Homo sapiens: one gene and its partner. The protein of the gene in region 1 interacts with the protein of each later gene in a pairwise test. Each region holds a gene or a part of one and is shown in the gene's direction. Other genes may lie near its edges.

Evidence for each region.
Region 2: the proteins of PIPOX (region 1) and HMGCL come close enough for resonance energy transfer, tested with the Homo sapiens proteins (one large-scale study listed by BioGRID).

The regions. Positions count from the first base shown.
Region 1 is NC_000017.11:29,055,329-29,057,940, forward strand, and holds the end of PIPOX (peroxisomal sarcosine oxidase), read left to right. Parts: intron 1-484; coding exon 485-560; intron 561-846; coding exon 847-977; 3' UTR 978-1,888; downstream 1,889-2,612. UniProt on the Homo sapiens protein: Metabolizes sarcosine and L-pipecolic acid.
Region 2 is NC_000001.11:23,818,644-23,822,467, reverse strand, and holds part of HMGCL (hydroxymethylglutaryl-CoA lyase, mitochondrial isoform 1 precursor), read left to right. Parts: intron 1-1,874; coding exon 1,875-1,958; intron 1,959-3,824. UniProt on the Homo sapiens protein: Mitochondrial 3-hydroxy-3-methylglutaryl-CoA lyase that catalyzes a cation-dependent cleavage of (S)-3-hydroxy-3-methylglutaryl-CoA into acetyl-CoA and acetoacetate, a key step in ketogenesis. Terminal step in leucine catabolism.

The DNA.
Region 1 (2,612 bases):
GTGTGACTTTAAACAAACGGGCTCATTTCTGTGGGTAGGTTCACCTCTACCAGGGAGGGTCCTGTTCGAAATTATTCCTATTCTTCTTCATTAGGAAACTAGGTTATGCCTGGCAGTCGGTCCTTCACTCTGATTCCCAGAAGAGCTCTAAAAGATTTTCTGGCAAGCTCCTCCAGTTGAGCAGGCCTTAGGGACAAAGAGAAGAGACAGATGTCACCACGGCCTAAGGCATCTTGGCTAAAGTTAGTTTACAAAGATTAACTGAACACCTACTGTGTTCGTAGCTCTGTGCGAGAAGAAAGGCAGCCGGACAAATGAAAAAGACTGGCACACCCAGAGGGGCACGGGCATGCGGAAAGCATCCTTGTGCCTCATTCCATCCTTTCTGGAAAGAAATCCAGCCCATCCCCTTCCAGTTAGAGCCTGCAGTTCTTTCTCTTCCCTCGAGCCTCAAAGAACACAAGGTGTGACTGTTTCTTTCTAGAATACCCCTGATGAGCAGTTCATTCTCGATCGCCACCCAAAGTATGACAACATTGTCATTGGTGCTGGATTCTCTGGTGAGTCTGAGCTGGGGGGAATGGGGTGCCTTAAAGCTGACCTACCTCAGTGCCAGGTGAAATGGTATTTTCCACACTCTTAGCTGCCCAGATAGGTGTGAAGCCTGGACATTGTAGGTATAAGGAGGCTGGGCAGTCAGAAAAGGGGTATTCATGGTGGGAGGCCACTTCTGGCTTTGGGATGTGACCAGGAGGACAGTCAGCCCTGTCTGGGTAAGTAGGGGATGTCCAGAGAGCTCAACCTCTGTCTGTGAAGCTGCCTGAGAGTCTGCTCTTCCCTTCCTAGGGCACGGGTTCAAGCTGGCCCCTGTGGTGGGGAAGATCCTGTATGAATTAAGCATGAAATTAACACCATCTTATGACTTGGCACCTTTTCGAATCAGCCGTTTCCCAAGCCTGGGCAAAGCCCACCTTTGACCTCTGGCCAGAAGCCTCCCTTCTGTGCACAGGAGCCAGTTTCACAGATGGAGAAGATGTCTCAGATGAAGGGAGTGTCCCTGAGATATCATCCTTTTCTTCTGCCTCGCCTGAATCCCCCATAAACACCAGATGATTGAGTCTACCTTCTTTCCTTGGCCCGCTCCCTTTTTCTTCTGCCTCACTTGAATCCCCCGTAAACACCAGACGATTGAGTCTACCTTCTTTTCTTGGCCACCTCCCCATTCACAACTACTTTCTCGCTCCCAGAAGGTTGATCAGATATTCTACAATCACAGAGTAGCAAGGACGTTTGAGATGGGTATATCAGTAAGAAGAGGGCACAAGAACTGGCTCTGGAGACCAAAGCAGTTGTTAAAAATTCTCTTTGCTGGGGGCCGGGTGTGGTGGCTCACACCTGTAATCTCGGCACTTTGGGGGGCTGAGACAGGCGGATCACCTGAGGCCAGGAATTCAAGACCAGCCTGGCCAACATGGTGAAACCCTATCTCCACTAAAAATACAAAATTAGCTGGGTGTGGTGGCGCATGCCTGTAATCCCAGCTACTTGGGAGACTGAGGCAAGAGAATCACTTGAACCCGGGAGGTGGAGGTGGCAGTGAGCCGAGATTGCGCCATTGCACTCCAGCCTGGGCAAAAAGAGTGAGACTCTGTCTCAAAAAAAAAACAAAACAAAAAAAACCTCTTTGCTGGTATATTTGAAGAGCTTGGGATGGATTTGACTAAATCTGCCCCGAGGAGGGTGAACAAGGTGATCTCAGAGATCACTACTGCTCTTGGAGTTCCTTCTCCTAAAGCTAAGGCCAGCCTCCATCACAAATGCCCATAAAATCTGGCTCGTCTTTGATGAACAATAAATATTTGTTGAACAAATAAATAACTGCCCTGCATTAAGTCTGTAGCGGGCTTTCTTTTCTGTGTGACCTCATTTCTTCCAGGCTCTAATTGTCTAAATTAGCACCACAGAATCCATTAACCCAGGAACCCTTGGAGTCTTTATCCCCTCAATGCGCTGCACCCCCTTTCTCTGGATTCTTTGTCTCCTCCTCACCCCCTCTCTGGTTGTGTGAAGATGCTCAGCTCCCCAGTCTCTCATTAAGGTGTATTGTCAGGTCCTTATGAAGATGGAGCTGTTATACCAGAAAGAAAGAGAGAGACACACTCGCTTAGAAACCCTGTTCAATGTTTGAATGTTAAATGTGCCATTTTATTATCATTAGGATTGCTCCCACTTAATGAAACAGCATTAGCACCGAGTTGGCTGGCCTCCTTGCACTAATTGCTTTGGAAGGGAACAGGCTTATAACCACCCCAGGGTGGGTGGAGGGGTGAGGGGTGGTAACAGGGACTCGAGCAAGTCTGGATGCACTCAGATGAAACCCACCTGGAGGATCTCCACATCGGGCCAGTTCAACCCCAGAACAGGAGCTAAAATGCTCTAGAGAGAAAAACTGGGACTGGGAGTGGCAGATGTGTTAGGGGGAGTCACAGAGTGGGGAGGAGCAGGCAGTGAGAATGACAGTACAAATATCCCCAAAGGAAATACAACACAGAGGAAATGGCTCTTCAACTGCCTGAGTCCTTAAGGTCCTAGGCACATGTATTAGCACTGAT
Region 2 (3,824 bases), on another chromosome or scaffold:
AAAACAAAGTTGATTTGAAAAGTTACAGTATCAAGACAGGTAGAGGAAAGAGGAAAAAAAAAGTATTGTGTTACTTGATAGGGAAGACTAAGATTTTGAGCTGACTTTATATAGAGGAGACTCAGGGCATTTTGTAAAAACTGTCTTCAGCTACTGGGGGTGTCACCTCCCCTTAGACCCATGCTTGTCATCACCCAGCCTATGACTGTAACAGAAGAGAGCCCTCCTGCATCTCGCCCATACCCCGAAAAGTCCAGGACTGACTACTCCTCCCCACACTCAGTAATTGCTCTCTTCTGGGACAGCTGTGTCCTTCATGGTTTATGTGTTATTTTAATAACTTTAAAGAGTGGCTACTTTGTACCAAACACGGTGCCAAACACTAGGGATGAAGTGGAGTTGAGACAGACAAGGTCCCTCAAAGAGCTTATGTTCTACTGGAAGAGACATTGAGTAGGCATTCTTTATCGTGCTTTGAAGGAAATAATTATAGCTCTGCAATAGCGAAAATAATGGGGGTGGGAGGAATGGCAGCTTTGCAAAGGGTGGTCAGAGGAAGCCTCTCTGCAACTGAAAGATGAGAGAGAGATGTAAGAACAGCCAGTTTTTTTAAAAAAAGCCAGATGAGGAACCCTGGGGCAGAGGGAAGAGAAGGCAGGGAGCTTAGCAACCTGTTGGGTGGAGGTTGGGAGTGGACAGTAGGGGCGAGTGATGATTCCAGGAGGTCAGAGGAGGCAACTCATACAGTCTTTTCTTTTCTTAATTGGAAAGCATCAAGTGACATATAGAGTCATTTAATTTTTTTTTTTGAGACAGGGTCTCGCTCTGTTGCCCAGGCTGGAGTGTAGTGGCACAGTCATAGCTCACTGCAGGCTCAACCTTCTGGGCTCAAGCGATTCTCCCACCTCAGCCTCTTGAGTAGCTGGGACTACATGTCCATTCCACCACACCTGGCTAATTTTTCTATTTTTAGTAGAGACGGGGTTTCTTCATCATGTTGGCCAGGCTGATCTCGAACCTCTGGCCTCAAGTGATCTGCCTGCCTTGGCCTCCCAAAGTGCTGGGATTACAGGCATGAGCCACCGTGCCTGGCCTTTTTTTATTTTTTTTGGAAATGGAGTCTTCCTCTGTCGCCCAAGGTGGAGTACAGTGGCACGATCTTGGCTCATTGCAACTTCCACCTCCCTGGTTCAAGCAATTCTCCTGCCTCAGCCTCTTGAGTAGCTGGAGTTACAGGCGTGCACCACCACACCCGGCTATTTTTTGTGTATTTTTAGTAGAGATGGGGTTTCACCATGTTGGTCAGGCTGGTCTCAAACTCCCGACCTCAAGTGATCGCCCGCTTCGGCCTCCCAAAGTACTGGGATTACAGGCATGAGCCACTGCCCCCCGCAATACCTGGCCTTTTTAAACTACTTCTAACATACATACAGCAGCATACAGAGTCCTATAGGCCATGGTGAATAGGTGAAATGGCTCAATGAAGTTCTGGCTTATGCAGTAGGGTACATGCGATGCCTTTGACAGAGATGGAAAGGATGGAGTCAGATGGGCTTTAGGAGAAATTAGAGTTCTGTTTCGGGACTGCTATATGAAGAGATGCGAATAGAGCTGTCAGGTAGGCAGTGGAAAAGGAGTCTGGACTTCAGGGGAGAACCGGTACTGGAAGGATGAATCTCTTGCTTGTTCCTGTTACTAAGTGAAATATTCTTTTTGTTCTTAATTCTAAAATAGACCAAATGTGAATTAAATGGTGAGAAATATTTCTTCTTGTCTCATTATTAGTGAAGATAGATCCATTCTTTCATATTGGTCTCCCTGGGAATTGTGGCAATCTCTTCCTCATACTTTTTGTTTCCTCTTTTAAACCAAAGGTCAGCACCTCATCTATGGGCACTTTACCAAAGCGGGTGAAAATTGTGGAAGTTGGTCCCCGAGATGGACTACAAAATGAAAAGGTAAAGTTGGAAATGAGCCAAAAAAACAGTTTTTTCAAGCATCTGCTTTGAGTATTACGTGTGATAGGTGCAATGGCAGTTGACAGAGCTATGCAAGATGTGATTCCTCTGCACAAGTTAGGGGAGAGTAGAGGAGGCCAAACAGGGACAGACACCTGTGACAGTTAAATGATCTAAAATGGTGGGGCAAGCTGGATGGGTGGCTCATGCCTGTCATCCCTAATTACTTGGGAGGCTGAGGTGGGAGGATGGCTTGAGCCCAGGAGTTTGAGACCAGTCTGGGCAATATAGCAAGACTCTATCTTATTAAAAAATATATGTATATATATAAACTGAATGGTGGTGCAACAGGTTTGGTGTCCCCAGGTCCACAGCCCAGTGGGGTGGGGTAGACCCAGCAATTCCATGTAAGGGGATTTATCCAAAGCAAGTCACGAAGGCCAAATGTAGAGATTTAGCCTTGGGGGTGTTCCTTACAAACCTGTTTGGTAAGCACAGAACAGTTGGAAACAACTTAAATATTTAGTATGAGGAAAGTTGGGTCAGATACACTATGGACTTTTTATAAAATGAAATATTATGAAGCCATTAATAACATAGGTATATATAAAGTGACTCAAGCAGTTTATAAAATAGTACATGTGACTGGGCATGGTGGTGGCTCATGCCTGTAATCCCAGCACTTCAGGAGGCTGAGGCAGAGCACGATTCTGTCTCCAAACAAAAACAAATAGTGCATGTGCGCGTACGCACGCGCGCGTGTGTGTGTGTGTGTTTTTGGGAGATGGCATCTCACTCTGTCACCCAGGCTGGAGTGCAATGGCGCAATCTCGGCTCACCTCAACCTCCTCCTCCCGGGTTCAAGTGATTCTCCTGCCTCAGCCTCCCGAATAGCTAGGATTACAGGCCCCTGCCACCATGCCCAGCTAATTTTTGTATTTTTAGTAGAGATGGGGTTTCACCAGGTTGGCCGGGCTGGTCTTGAACTCCCGACCTCAGGTGATCCACCTGCCTCAGCCTCCCAAAGTGCTGGGATTACAGGCATGAGCCAATGCGCCTGGCCATGTATTTTTTAATCTTAACACTTTTATGTAAGAAAAAAGTTTATATATGTATGGGAGCATTTATCTAGACTAGGACCTAGACCAGCACTTTCTGTGAAGATGGAAATATTCTGGACCTGAGCTTTTCCATGTGGTGGCCACTATACCCATGTGGCCCTTGAGAACTTGAGATGTGACTAGTGTGGCCAAGGAATTGTATTTTTATTTTTATACAATTTTTATTAAATTTAAATAACCACATGTGACTAGTGACATATTGGGCTGCACAGATCTAGAAAGTTACACACCAGGGTGTTAATAGCGTTATCACTGGGAGATTCTAAGGGTGGTTTTCTTTTGTTTTTGGCATGTTTTTCTGAAAGAATCATATATTGATTATTTTTTCAATAAGAAAAGCTTTTTTCTTTTTCTCTTTTTTTTTTTTTTTTTTTTTTTTTTTAGCACGTCCATCCTAGCTTTAATAGTGAGTGCTTGTTGGAAACAATAGTGTGTAAGTTCCCGAAGGGCAGAATCCTGTCTGTTCTGCTTCTGCTTACTGCTATATCCCCGGCACCTAGCACAATGCCTGCAACATGGAGGGCTTTCAAAAATTATTTGACAGGCTGGGCATGATGGCTCATGCCTGTAATACTGGCACTTTGGGAGGCTGAGGCAGGCAGATCACCTGAGGTCAGGAGTTTGAGACCAGCCTGGCCAACATGGTGAAACCCCATCTCTACTAAAATAAATGAGCTGGGGTGGTGGCATGCTTGTGTAATCCCATCTACTCTGGAGGCTGAGGCAGGAGAATCGCTTGAACCCG